Homo sapiens: one gene and its partners. The protein of the gene in region 2 interacts with the protein of the main gene of each other region in a pairwise test. Each region holds a gene or a part of one and is shown on either strand. Other genes may lie near its edges.

Region 1 (3,500 bases), on a different chromosome or scaffold from region 2:
CTTACAATTATGGTGGAAGGGGCACCTTTTTCACGAGGCAGGAGAGAAGAGTGAAGAGCAAAGCAGGAAGAGCCCATTTTAAAACCAGATCTCATGAGAACTCACTATCAGGAGAACAGCATGGGGGAGATTGCCTTGATGATTTAATCACCAACCACCAGGTTCCTCCCTTGACGTGGGGATTATGGGATTACAATTTGAGATGAGATTTGGATGGGGACACAGAGCCAAACCATATTAGTAGATACTTAATAATTATATAGTAAATATTTAATTTTTATAGTAATAATTATATAGTAAAAATTTGTTTAACAATGAGAAATTGATTTATTCTTTCAGAAAATGTTTAGTAAGCACTTAATAAAAATCAGAAGGGGGGGATTGATTGGGAAAGTACTACAAGAGCAAACTTTCTGGGGCAATGGAAATGTATTTTGTCTTAGGTGGTGTTTATAGGTCCATATAGTTACAAAACTCATCAAACTGAGCGCTTCACAAACACAAAGCTTGGCCAGGTGCGGTGGCTAATGCCTGTAATCTCAGCACTTTGGGAGGCTGAGGCAGGCAGATGGGAGTTTGAGACCAGCCTGGCCAACATGGTGAAACCCCATCTCTACTAAAAATATAAAAATTAGCAGGGCGTTTTGGCAGGCACCTGTAATCCTAGTGACTCAGAAGGCTGAGGCAGGAGAATCGCTTGAACCCGGGAGGCAGAGGTTGCAGTGAGCCAAGATCATGCCACTGCACTCCAGCTTGGGCGACAGAGCGAGACTCCATCTCAAAAACAAACAAACAAAAAGCACAAAGCTCAATAAACTGAACTGTAAATTAAACACTTCAAACAAAAGTAAGTTAAATAAATTGAGCCAGACGTTATATAGACACTGGGGACACAGATGATCAGACAAATAAGGTCCCTGCCCTTGTATCTCTCTTTTTCTTTTATTTTTTATTTTTTTTATTTTTTTGAGATAGAGTCTCTTCTCTGTCTCCCAGGCTGGAGTGCAGTGGTGAGATCTTACCTCACTGCCACCTCCACTTCCGGGATTTAAGTGATTCTCCTGCCTCAGCCTCCTGAGTAGCTGGGATTACAGGCGTGTGCCACCATGCCCAGCTAATTTTCTGTATTTTTAGTAGAGTTGGGATTTCACCATGTTGGCCAGGCTGGTCACGAACTCCTGACCTCAAGTGATCTGCCCACCTCAGCCTCCCTTAGTGCTGGAATTACAGGCGTAAGCCACCACGCCCAGCCCCCTTGTATCTCTTATATTGTGAGTGGGGAACATGATAGGTAGATGCAGCCATTAAAATTTATGTTTCCAACTGATATTAAGGAGTTGGGGAAATAATATAATAATCTGACATACCATTAAGTGAAAAATGCAATATAGCCTTATTTTTTAAGCATTTACAGCCTATGTATTTACATACCAAAAAAGAGATACATTTACCAAATAAATACATAAATGTTATTTTTTATAATCCTAAGACAAAAATAAATAATATGCTGAATAAAATACATTATTTTATACAAAAATTTGCTTGGTGTGGTGGCGCACGTCCATAATCCCAGCTATTTGGGTGGCGGAGGCACAAGAATCACTTGAACCTGGGAGGCAGAGGTTGCAGTGAGCCAAGATCATGCCACTGCACATCAGCCTGGGTGACAGAGTGAGACTATCTCATTAAAAAAAAAATATATTTTAAATTATTTTATTTGGTCAGGCACGGTGGCTCACGCCTGTAATCCCAGCACTTTGAGAGGCCAAGGTGGGTGGATCACCTGAGGTCAGGAGCTTGAGACCAACCTGACCAACACGGTGAAACCCCATCTCTACTAAAATACAAAAATTAGCTGGGTGTGGTGGCGTGCGCCTATAATCCCAGCTACTCGGGAGGTCACTGAGGCACGAGAATCGCTTGAACCCGGGCAGTGGAGATTGCAGTGAGCTAACACGACACACACTCCAGCCTGGGAAACAGAGCGAGACGCTGTCTCAAAAAAAAAAAAAAAAAATTTTTTTTGCACATTATTTACAGTTAGTAATATTTTCCTTTCAAAGTATCTAAAATATCTGTAATAGCTGAACATATATCAAACAGATCTATAGAGACTAGCACATGTAAAATTTTTTTTAAGTTTCTTGTTTGATTCTTCTGTATTTTATCTTTCTTCATATAAAATCAGCCTTAATTGACAGAGAAATATTCTATGTACTCATTCATATGTGGGAACTAAAAAAGTTGATCTCATGGAGATAGTCAAATGGTAGTTACCAGAGGCCAGGAAGGGTAGGGAGGGAGAGAATGAAGAGAGGTTGGTTAATGGGCACTATAGTACGGTTATATAGAAAAAGTTCTAGTATTCAATAGCATAATAGGGTGACTATTGTTATCAGTAATTTTAGTGTATATTTCAAAATAGGAGAGAAAATTTGGAATGTTCTCAATATAAATAAATGATAAATGAGGTGACGAATATCCCAGTTACACTGAGTTGATCATTGCACATCATATGCATGTATGCATGTAGCAAAATATCACTTGTACCCCATAAATATGTACAGTTATTATGTATCAGTACAAAAACAGCCTGAATAAATGTACTTACAGTCATTTGAATTGAGCTTTTCAAGCTGTATTGCTTTCATGTATAAAGTTTTTCAGTAGTTAAATTGTAGTTGGTTATCTTTAAAAAGTAGATTATGTTAAGACTTTGGTAAGTTATTACTTTGTTGTAGGAGGTAATAGTACCTCTCATCACTGTATTTTTAAGCATAGTGTTTTACCAAGGAATTAAGTGTTCAAAAGAATATTTTCTGAAGTGGATTTTAAAACAGTAGTAATACCATTTGTTCTTGAGGTTTGTGGGTTAAGATAGGAAATGCTATATTTAAGAGTCTAACATTAAGGTTTTCAACCAGGCATGGTGGCTCACACCTGTAATCCCAGGACTTCGTGGGGCTGAGGCAGGCGGATCACTTGAGGTCAGGAGTTTGAGACCAGCCTGGCCAACATGGTGAAACCCCATCTCTACTAAAAATACAAAAATTAGCCAGACGTTGTGGTGTGCTCCTGCAGTTTTAGTTACTTGGGAGGCTGAGGCAGGAGGATAGCTTGTGCCCGGGAGGTGGAGGTGGTAGTGACCAAGAGCACACCACTGCACTCCAGCCTGGGCAATGGAAGTGAAACCCTGTCTCAAAAATAAATAAATAAGATTTTCATCTTTGCGTTCCCATTCACTCGCTTTTTGATAAATTTAAGCTCTTATGACTTCTAAAATATTGTAATATGTACAATAATACTTAATGTTATTCTACATTGAACAAACATTTAATGACTGCTATTTCGAGTTACATACTGGATGCTGGGGCCAATTGCAAGCTAAGATAATTAGTCAGATAAAACAGAAGGAACTCCATATGCAAAGAACTCAAAAAGGCTGCTTACTAGACAGTAGCTTTCGCTGGCCTCAGGTACATGAAGAGACCATGTTTGTG
Region 2 (3,500 bases):
CCAATAACTGTGTTCTTTGGTTCTCACCACAACCCTATGCACAGAGGAAATGGAAGGCACAAAGTGGTGAAGTTGCTTGCCCAAGACCCCGTAGCTGGTATGTGGCAGAGCATAAATGCAAACCCAGTTCTTCTGGCTCCAGAATCCTGCCCTAGACGATGACACTTTTGATCAGCAGTGGATGCACCCCAAATCATGCCTCTGTTATTGACCAAAGCCTGATCCACTCACCCTTGAGTTTGAGGCCCACTGTGAACCTGCCCAGAAATGCCTACCTCCAAGCCCTTTCTTCCTCCACTGCTCCCACCCAGCCAAAGCAGACAGGCAGCTGCTCCCCCAGAACCACTTCCTACTTCCTCATCACTGCTGATACGGTTCTCCCTTTAGGGATGCTCTTCCCCTAAGATCTGCCTCTAAGATTCCACTCAAGGGAGCCTCCTTGATACCCCAGGTGGAAGGGGTCACTCCTTGAGCACCAAGTCCACCCCCATCACAGGACCCTCTGTGTGACCTTCTAGTATTGTTTATGGTTGTGACCTCACTGCCCTAAGACTGTCTACTTCTGACCCCACAAGGGCTAGCACTGCCCTCAGAAAGCTCAGCCACTGTTTGCTGAATTTAATTAAAAATACATCTCTAATAACCTCTTTGTAAAATAGCTTGGCAGTTTCATAAAAAGTTAAACGTACATCTTCTTCACGAGCCAGCAGTTGTACTCCTAGGTATATTCCTACGGGAAATGAAAGCACATGTCTGCATAAAGGTTCATGTATGAATATTCACAGCAGCATTATTCATAACAGCCAAAACCTGGAAGCTGTCAAGATACCCATCCACTGACGAATGATTCAGCACACTGTGGTATAGTCATAAATGGAATACTACTCAGCCATGAAAAGGAACAAATTCCTGATAAACACCACAACATGAATGAATTGCAAAAGCAGTGCTCTGAGTCCAAGAAGCTGGGCAGAAAGGAGTTGGTGCCCTGATTCCATTTTTCTCAAGTTGTAGAAGAAACAAACTAATCTACGGTAGGAGAAATTCAAATTCAGATTCTCCCCATCCCCACCAGTTACCTCTGGTTGGTGGAGAGGGGGAGAATTGGCAGGAAAGGGGCACAAAGAAACTTTTTGGGGTGATGGAAATATTTTGTACCTTGCTTTAGATGTTGGTCAGATGGAATATACGTTTGTGGAAACCTGCCAAACTGTACATTGAATATCTGTGTGTTTTTACCACATACAGTTAAAACTAAAAAAAAAAAAAAAAAAAAAAAAAAATTGAGTATAAATAAATAGCAAATTTAATTTATTTTTAAAAACTAGTTTTCATTCTGTTACTGTTTCTTTTTCTTCAGTATTCCAGTACCAGTACCCGGAGAGAACATGTCAAAGTTAAAACCAGCTCCCAGCCAGGCTTCCTGGAACGGCTGAGCGAGACCTCGGGTGGGATGTTTGTGGGGCTCATGGCCTTCCTGCTCTCCTTCTACCTAATTTTCACCAATGAGGTAAAATGTCTGGGGTCTTCCTGTGCAGAGTGAGAGTCCCCACCATGTCAGAGAGCAAAGGCGATGAACCCGGAGGCTGGATTTGGTAATCAAGGGCCTAGATTTTAAAAAGAGAAAGGAGGATACTGAGTTAATCACAGTTCTTTCCATTGTGATCCATCCCACAGCTGATGTGAGCAGGAAGGGGAGTAGATCAGTTCACACACCTGAATATCCAGGGGTTAGCACCTGCCTCAGGCGTAGTTGGATCCAGGTGTTCATGCTGGGTCACCAGGAATCTCCATTTCTTCATCTTTTGCCTGTTTTTCTCTATTATGGTGTTTTTCTTGGGCAGGCACTTCATCTGTGATGGCAAATGTGGCCCCAGCAACTGGCCTACATCCAACCACTTAGCCCAGGGAAGAGAAAAACCATCTGTTTCTCTTCCTTTCTTTCTTTTCCTTTCTTTCCCCTCCCTCCCTCCCTCCCTTCCTTTGTTCCTTTCTTCCTTCCTTCCTTTGTCTCTCTCTTTCTCTCTTTCTTGTTTGTTTGTTTCTTTCTTTCTCTCCCTCTCTCTTTCTTTTTCTCCTTTTTTTTAATAGGGCCTCATGATGCAACAGTATATTTCTAAATCAATTTAGCAGCAGTTACAGGGCCATCTCTCAGTGTCCTGGCTTGGCTCTCCGTCCTCTGAATCAGTCTCCGTGTCCAGGGCGCACTCACATGTTCTGACTGGCAAGGTCTGGGTCCCATAATCTGACCAGGGTTCAGATAGACTCAGGTAAACCACATGGGCTGAGTAGGAGAGAGGAGAGCCAGGCATGGAGGCTCAAGCCTGTAACCCCAGCACTTTGGGAGGCCAAGGAGGCAGGATCGCTTGAGGTCAGAAGTTCGAAAGCAGCCTGGGCAACATAGCAAGACCCCATTTCTACAAAAAACTTAAACATAAAAATAAAATTAAAAAAAAGAAGGCAGAGAAAAATGGGGAGAAAGGGACAGGCAGGCAGAAACATCAGCTGTTCCCACCACTGGGGCAGTGCTAAGATTGGTGGGGGCTAGTGGGAACCAATGGGGCAGTAGGAAGAAGTCTCCCTGGGAAAGCAGGAATCTGGGTTCCAGTCCTTACTCTCCACTTGCTAGACCTCAGTTTTCCAACTGTACGGTGGGGAGATGGGTCTCAGCGCTCCCGGAGGCCCCATCCTACCCTAATACTTTGCAACAAGCACAGTCATGCTGAGCCACCCCTGAGCTGTTGAAATCCCCACTCCCCTTTGCTCCCAGGGCCGCGCATTGAAGACGGCAACCTCATTGGCTGAGGGGCTCTCGCTTGTGGTGTCTCCCGACAGCATCCACAGTGTGGCTCCGGAGAATGAAGGAAGGCTGGTGCACATCATTGGCGCCTTACGGACATCCAAGGTAGGTTTGGCAGGGGATGCTGACCTGCCAGTGGCTCGGGGCTCATCCTGGATGTTGTCTGGCTGAGGATTTGAAAGCATGGGCCTTGGAGATGGTCACACATGGGAGTGATTCCCGACTTTACCACTCAGCAGCTGTGTGGACTTGTCTATCCTGAGTCTCAGTGTCTTCGTGTATAAAATGGGGACGGTAATGGTTACAAGCTTGTGGCCAGCCTTGAGGATTTGGTGAGATTAGGTAACTAACGCCTTGGTACAGTGGCTGGCACTCAGGGAGGTGCTCTCATGACTCTGATGACCATGTGTGTCCAGTGCAAGGCCACAAAACTACCCTGGGCACCAGAGCTTTCCTGTTATTTGAACACCCTGTACGCTGTTGGCACCATGCCATTGGGCCATGCAGCCCAGGCCTGTACTGTGAGGGTCACAGTCACAGGCACTGTGTGTAAAGAACCTGGGACAGGGAGTGTCCTCGATTCTCCCCTGCAAAGCAGTGTAGGGCTCTCCACCCTTGTCCCCTTCTCTATTTCTTCCTCTTCCAGTCCAGCTTCCCCTGAGCCAGGCTTTCTGGGCTGACGTGAATGTTATCCTTTATT
Region 3 (4,250 bases), on a different chromosome or scaffold from region 2:
ATTTTTATTTATTTATTTATTTTTGAGGAGTTCTTGAAGTGCCACGCAATGCCTCTCCATGTCTATCTACCCCAGTTCCCGACTCCTAGCACCACATCTGGCACATCATAGGTGGTCAGCATTTATTGGATGAATGAATGGATCAATATTTGATTGAGTCTTGAAGTACGAATAGAATTTGGCGAAGTGGACAAGGCAGGAAATGTGTATTCAGGCATGAGGCTTAGCTTGTGCATAGGTAGAAAGGCATGAAAAAACATGGAACATTCTCGAATCCACAAATAGTAAGAGAGGGCTAAGTCGTTGTGTGGGGGAGAGGAGAAATGAAGTTCAAATGGTAGGCAAAGGTCAGTGGGCAAGGGCCTTGTAAATTGCACTTGAATTTTATTCTTTAGGCAAAAGGAAGAGTTTAAGGGTTTCAAGAAGAAGGACACGACCAGTGGGTTTTAGGAAGATCATTCTGATGGCCTTTCAGAGGATGGCTGAGGAGAGCTAGCAGGGAGGCAGGGAGGTCGAGTCAGGGGATTTTGACCAGGCCAGGTTAGGTGCTATGAGGCCCGGGCTTTGGAGAAGAACCAGGAAATGGCAACTGGAGGCAAGAAAGGGGAGAAGGCCAAAGCCTGGGAACCATCAACACTTAAGAACAGTAAAGAATAAACATCTAAAGAGAACAAGAAGGAATGGCCAGAAGAAGGAAAACAGGAAAGAACTGAGGCGTGGGAGCGCAAGAGAGAGAATGGTTCGAGAAGGAAGCAGTCACAGGTGTCAAGGCCATTGGGAGGTCAAGTGAGATAAGGACTGAAGGTCCCACCAATTGGGCCATCAGGAGCACAGGACTTGAGAGCACTTCTGGGTGGGAACAGACCCAGCCTGGGGCAGGGCTCAGGTTTCTGATGGGAATTCTGGAAGGGTCCCTTTTATTCAACATGCTTCAATCCAGGGGCCCCCGAAGTCTGACCACAGCAATGCTCCAAACCATGTGTCTTTCCTGGCTTAAGGTTCAGTCGCCCTCCTCAGAGGGGAGCCTATGAAAGAGCCCAGTGGAGTGTCAGGGTCCTGAGTCCTAGTCCTAGTCCTGTCCCTGCCACTTGTGAGGGAACTTGGGCCTCAGTTTCTCCAGGTGGGCTCCACAATTGCTTCTCTTGATCTGGACTGCCCCAGTGCCCAGGTTCAGTGAGTGACACAGGCAGCTGGGTTTCCACATCCTCTGACTTGGGTTCCCTTCACTGCCTCCAGGCAGGGCTCGGCCCTCCACCCCCAAGTGGCCCATTGTGTGAGCTCAGTTTCAGTGGGGACAGAAACTGGGTTGAGAAAAGGGAATATTTACCTATCCCACCAAGCCAATGCCAAGTAAATAGTGCAGTATCTTATGTAGAGCCCTTGCCCTGCCCTTCCCCATCTGGGTGCTGCTGCCTAGAGCATATAAAAGGCACCTTGCTGGGCATGTCTCATACTAGCCCACCAGACTCAGAGACGGAACCAGAGACGGGCCAGAGCATCCCCCTCCTCCACCATGAAACTCGCTGTCACCCTCACCCTGGTCACACTGGCTCTCTGCTGCAGCTCCGGTGAGTGCTCAGAGACCCTTCCCTCCCTCCTGGACTTAGGAACTCTCAGGACCCCCCAGTTCTGCTCAGAAGAAGGAGTGAGCTGCCCATTCCTGCTCTGGAGCTGCTGGGAGGACCTGGGCATGCTGAGTCTCAGAAAACTGGGTCTGGTGAGCAAGCTCATCTTGGAAACTTGGAGAGAGCCCCAGGCTGTAAGGAAGCCTAAAAAGGGTCCCATCTTCTATATCCAACAACCCTCAGAATCCCAGGGAATGGAATAGCCTGGAGGGAGGAGTGGAGAATACCCCATAAAGATGAGTACATCCAGCATAGGAATAATGAGGCCCTCATCCCAGATCTGGACAGACTCCAAGATGCTGAGACCTTGGTGCAGCCTCCAAGTCTGGGGTCTCCACTCCATGCTGGCAGCTGAAGTCACTGGAAGGGGAGCTGCAGGGACTCGTGACCCCAAAAGAAACCCAACCCAAGACAAGGTCTCTCATTCTGGGCACAGAGGAATATTCCAGAAAGAGAGCTTCCCTTTGGGGAACTGCCAACCCAGAGTGAAGTTTTCTAAACATTTCCGTCCTCTGCAAAAGGGATTAGGAGTCTCTGAGTAGTTGCTGCTGTCACTAAAAGGAAAAGAACTGTGGGGGGAAGAGGGGCAGAAAGAGAGACGGAGAGAGGGGGAGAAAGGAAGGAAAGAAGGATCACAGCTCTCTCCAAGATCCCCCGTCTTTGGGGAACTGGGTTATCTAACTCTGTTTTTCACTCTGCGTCAGCCTCTTCCATTCTCATCTGAAAATGCTGTTGTTATTTTTTAATAAACAAACTCCAATTAATTCACTTGGAAAGCTTCACAACACCCATGGAGATAAGTTTTATGACCCTGGGGAGTTAGAAAACCCAAACCAAGAAGCAGTAGGAACAACTATTTTGCAGAGAGGTTTATTTGTTTTTCAGAGAAAATGACATCATTTTGGACTGAAATGTGTATTAATTAGAAGATCTCAGTGCTGTCTGCGTACAGAGGTGGGTGGCTGAGCAAGATAGGACTGCAACATGTTAAGGGGTGGGTCAGAGATGCATTTGTCTATTTGTGTGCACATGCATACAATATTTAACACTTACTTCACACAATGTGCCAATCACTGTCACCCTTTCACATAATATCTCTTTTCATTCTTTTTTTTTTTTTTTTTTGAGACAGAGTCTCGCTCTGTTGCCAGGCTGGAGTGCAGTGGCGCGATCTCAGCTCACTGCAACCTCCGCCTCCCGGGTTCAAGCGATTCTCCTGCCTCAGCCTCCCAAGTAGGTGGGATTACAGGCACGCACCACTGCACCCAGCTAATTTTTGTATTTTTAGTAGAGACAGGGTTTCACCATGTTGGCCAGGATGGTCTCCATCTCTTGACCTCGTGATCCACCCACCTAGGCCTCCCAAAGTGCTGGGATTAGGCGTGAGCCACCATGCCTGGCCTCTCTTTTTATTCTTACAACAACCCTATGAAGTAGGGATATTGGGCCAGGCACGGTGGCTCACGCCTGTAATCCCAGCAATTTGGGAGGCCGAGGTGGGTAGATCACTTGAGGTCAGGAGTTCAGGACCAACCTGGCCAACATGGTGAAACCTTGTCTCTATTAAAAATACAAAAATTAGCCAGGCATGGTGGCGCATGCCTGTAGTCCCAGCTACTTGGGAGGCCGAGGCAGGAGAATCACTTGAACCTGGGAGGCAGAGGTTGCAGTCAGCCGAGATGGCATCACTGCACTCCAGCCTGGGCAATAGAGCGAGACTCCGTCTGAAAACAAATAAATAAATAAAAATAAAATTTAAATTAAATTAAAATTTAAAAAATAAAAAATAAAATGAAGTAGGGATATTGTTCCCATTTTACAGATGAGAAAACTGAGCTACAGAAACACAGAGTGACTTGCCTGGTGACACAGTAAGTTACACATCAAGGACCTAAGTTCTGGAGAGGGTCTGACTTGGAGTGGCAATTTCTAGTGAGGCCCTAGAGTCAGAGGAGGGAAGGCAAATTTGTTCAGAAGGCAGAGAATTCAAGGAAAAGGGATTTGAGACTCACTGGGAAGATGGAGGCAAGCAGTGGGTAGAAAATGGTGACTTTCCCCCATGTTCCTGGTTGTAAGGACCTGAGAAGAAAACAGAGTCTGGAAGCTCTGTGTTGAAGGGAATGAAGTGGTACAAGTGGCTGCTCTGTCCATGAGCTGAGTGTGCCACAGGGCCCGCTGTGCACATGTGCACACCTCTTCCCGGCCAGGTTCGGGGGCCCATGTTTGGCTGGTACAATCTCAATGGCTTCTTTTCTTTTCTTTTCTTTTCTTCTTTTTCTTTTCTCTTGCTTGCTTGCTTGCTTGCTTGCTTGCTTGCTTTTTGAGACAGAATCTCGCTCTGTTGCCCAGGCTGGAGTGCAGTGACGAGATCTCAGCTCACTGCAACTTCTGCTTCCTGGATTCAAGTGATTCTCCTGCCTCAGCCTCCTGAGTAGCTAGGATTACGGGTGCCCAGAACCACGCCCGGCTAATTTTTTGTATTTTTAGTAGAGACGGGGTTTCACCATGTTGGCCAGGCTGGTCTCGAACTCCTGACCTCGTGATCTGCCTGCCTCGGCCTCCCAAAGTGCTGGGATTACAGGTGTGAGCCACCGTGCCTGGCTTACAATCGCTTTTTCCTGCCAG
Region 4 (3,500 bases), on a different chromosome or scaffold from region 2:
GTTTCTGAGCAACAATACAAACATGCAGTGACAAAGGGCTAGAAATTTAGATTTTTCATAATCTAAGGCATGGAACACCCTTAAGAAGGAGTTTTCAAGCAATTGCTTCATGAGTATAAAATTACAACCAGATAACATTTGTAAAATAAAGCTTAAATCACTTTTCAGTTTGAGCTTAGACAGAATGTGATACATGCATGTTAATTTTACTGGCATCTGAAAATACCGACAGGCTGACTAAAAAGGTCCGGATTAAATTAAGGCTATACTTTATTAATATTTTTCCAGGGTAATGGTAACATTTTTCCAGGGTAAACTGCTTTAGAAGGGGAACTTGATTGGAAAGTTCCCGTTGTAGAGCAATTGTTTGGGTGCCTTCAGCTCATATTGGACCATGTTGGACTGAGGTCCATTGGCAGTGAGGAAATTCTGCAACATCTCTGAAGCCCAAATCTCCTTTGACACCATCCTTAGAAGGGATGGAACATACAAGTCACTATCATGGTTCTTATTCCCATGGCCTGCTAATTTTCAGTCTCCTGCTTCTGTAGGTTACACGTTGTAAAAGCAATCTCAGTATATCCATGTCTTCAAAAAACCAGGGTCACTCCTTCTAACTTCTTTTTATCAGTTCTTAGGTAGAAGTAGAACTTTAAAACCATTGCTAGAGTCAGATTAGCTTGAAAGTGCACTGACTGCCTTTGTGAATCCCCCATCCCTTAACAAAGACTAATACTTTGTTCATTAGTATCTTCAGTCCCTGCTGCTCTGCTCAGAGATGTTGGCTCTCTATGAATTCCTGAGAACTATATCACATTGATCAGTACTACCCAATCCCCTTCCCCATTCCATGAACAAGACCTTTAATCCAGAAATGTAGAAATATATGAAATACTGCTTCATATTGCTTTGTATTATACTGATTCAGATAATACTGTCGATCAAATAATGCTTAGCTAAACATAGCTCTATATGATAAAAAATCAATAAAAAAGAATATGTTTTACCTAAAGAATAGTATGTTAGCCTCTAGCTCCAACACCAACAAAAGAAAATATTCCTATTAGATTTGTTAAGTGGTCTTTATGCAATTGCCAGTGGTTTTAGAGAGAATATTTAAATAAGGCACATCTACTACTCAAAAAGAAGTTTTAATCAGCGACTTCATGAGTATGAAAGTTGCTTCTTCATAATCATGAATCAGAATGACTGAAAACTCACTAAGGTCATGCAAACCCAAGAAGGTGTTTCTCTGGTGTTATTCTGGAGGCCTGAATGAACTGTGATGTGACATCATAGCTCAAAGGTAAAAAAATGTCAGTGGGATAGAATTATCTTTTCTTTGATAGGCCATAGTCCCACGGTCCCCAGTTTAGAGGGCAGTGCCAATTCCTTTAGGCTGTTCTCCTTAATGCCTCAGGATGTCATGTGTCTCTGCTCCCCCAAATCTATATTTAATAATAATGAAAAGATGTAATATCAGAGTACACTTGGGATTGAGGATGTCTGACTTACCCAGGCTAGGCCTTAACTGCTCCACCTCCTGCTCATTTTGTGCTGGTGAGGGTACAAAGGGAGTGCTAATAAGTAGCTTATTTATAGGCCTGCTGTCCTACGCATCACTGGTAACTGGTATAAATATGGTATAAAAATTGATGTTTCTTAAAAGAAATGATTTTGGTTTAAATGTATGTCTTTGAAAATCATGGCACACCCTCCATATAAACAACTTTGAGTGCTCTCTGGTGACATCTGAGTAAAAAGGATTTAGGGTATGGTTATGGGTGAGGTACATGTGTATATATGAGGTATATGTGTATAAACAAATGAGTGAGAAAATAATGTTTAGGGAAAAAGGGAAGTTAGTGTCTTCTGGAGGCATTTAGAATGCATAGTATTTGGAATTACAACAAAAGAAACTTGACATAAAAGAATAACCATGATACAAATATCTACAAATATAGCTAAATTTAAGATGATTAATATTTACCATATATAATAAAGTATAGGGTTAGCATTTTTTTTTTTAATTATACCAACCTTTGTGTCTTTTCCAAAGACTTTGGAATGAAAACAAATCCAGTTTTCTGATACAAAGAGCTTTCCTTGGTATAGTATTTCTTTCTGTAGAGCACAGGTAAAGCCTGGGAAAATATACACAGGCACAGCATCATTTAGAATTTCCACTTAAAATAAAAACCGTGTATATATTTTGGTGACTCAAGGATGGGCAGAGATAATACATTCACACTCAAAAGTTTTATTACCTCTTCTTCTGTCATCTTTATGGAAAGAAAGCTGTGGCAACCAGTTTGCTTTTAAGTTCAAAGTCTTACCAACTTCAGTATAAATATCAGAATGAAAAGGCAAATCTACCATTGTACCTGAGAGACCAAGAATGGGGTCTTACAAGTCTCCTCTATTTAGCCTGGTGTGTCACCATGTGCTGATATTAGTACACCTGTTCCCCTTTTCCCCAGTATTTTCAGGAATGACTGTTTTCAAAATACATGGCCTCACTAGGGGAAGAGCACATAACCCACACCTCCTGTTTGAAGGTCATGGCAGGAACCCAGCATCTTGCCTCAACTTTTGCACATCAAGAGAGGCTAGAATGGAACTTTGGGCCCCTTGATGAACCACTGCAGAGTCTAGTAGGCGTGCTTAACTAGCATGCTGGGCAAGATATTTAGGTGACTATCTTACCCTTCATAGTGGCATCAGCACATGTCTGTCCATGTCTAAGGATGTGAGTTTTCTTTTAGCCTTCTTCTAGTGGCCTCTCTTGCCCCAGGCTTGTTATCCTAAATCTTAAAGCAATGTAACCATGTGCATTTCAGCAATAAATAAAGAAGGGAAGGGCATCACGGAACCATCTTGGGTGACTCCATACCCCATGGAGAACTGTTTCTTTTTCTCCTCTGTGATCTTTTCACGCTGCCTGGTGAAAGCTGACTGAAGCTGGTGTTATTGTTATGTTATTACTTTCAGAAACCTGATCCCCTTGGTGACTCAGTCCATGGACTATGCCCTTTTTCTTCCCCAAAACTAATGATCAACTTTTCAAATATGTAGCTTAAAAAGTCAAACAGGTCAGAACTTACTTTGCTTCAGTGGTTCCTCCGTTGGGACACTAAGAAACAACTTGTGAAAGTGCATATTGGCCTTGTACTACAATGAGAACAAAATACAAGCATCACCATTCTCACTTTCTTGTGAAACATCACAAATTCAACTTCAACAACAAATTTTCCCTCCCTTAATAGTATCTTTAGGAATTCCTTCTCACTGATCTTACAGTCTCTGACACAAGCCTTCAGTAAAACACAGTGAAAGTCTGGGCACACAGTTTCATTTTCTAACAAGTTTAATGCTTTGCTGGTTGGATATAATGATGCAGCTGCTGGTCAGCCTACTGCCGAGGTAACAGGGCTGGACAAGGATGTCCCTGATGAGAAATGGGATGAAATTCTAAGGAATCTCATTAGGGAAGATACTGG

Evidence for each region. Proteins that work in one complex are often made in the same cells at the same time.
Region 1: the proteins of TMEM43 (region 2) and CISD2 interact in binary tests that used the Homo sapiens proteins (3 or more experiments, as listed by UniProt).
Region 3: the proteins of TMEM43 (region 2) and SCGB1A1 interact in binary tests that used the Homo sapiens proteins (3 or more experiments, as listed by UniProt).
Region 4: the proteins of TMEM43 (region 2) and GRAMD2B interact in binary tests that used the Homo sapiens proteins (3 or more experiments, as listed by UniProt).

The regions. Positions count from the first base shown.
Region 1 is NC_000004.12:102,878,992-102,882,491, forward strand, and holds part of CISD2 (CDGSH iron-sulfur domain-containing protein 2), read left to right. Parts: intron 1-3,500. UniProt on the Homo sapiens protein: Regulator of autophagy that contributes to antagonize BECN1-mediated cellular autophagy at the endoplasmic reticulum.
Region 2 is NC_000003.12:14,128,052-14,131,551, forward strand, and holds part of TMEM43 (transmembrane protein 43), read left to right. Parts: intron 1-1,360; coding exon 1,361-1,510; intron 1,511-2,770; coding exon 2,771-2,905; intron 2,906-3,500. UniProt on the Homo sapiens protein: May have an important role in maintaining nuclear envelope structure by organizing protein complexes at the inner nuclear membrane. Required for retaining emerin at the inner nuclear membrane.
Region 3 is NC_000011.10:62,417,583-62,421,832, forward strand, and holds the start of SCGB1A1 (uteroglobin precursor), read left to right. Parts: upstream 1-1,450; 5' UTR 1,451-1,513; coding exon 1,514-1,568; intron 1,569-4,250. UniProt on the Homo sapiens protein: Binds phosphatidylcholine, phosphatidylinositol, polychlorinated biphenyls (PCB) and weakly progesterone, potent inhibitor of phospholipase A2.
Region 4 is NC_000005.10:126,471,909-126,475,408, reverse strand, and holds part of GRAMD2B (GRAM domain-containing protein 2B), read right to left. Parts: intron 3,172-3,500; coding exon 3,105-3,171; intron 2,145-3,104; coding exon 2,041-2,144; intron 1-2,040.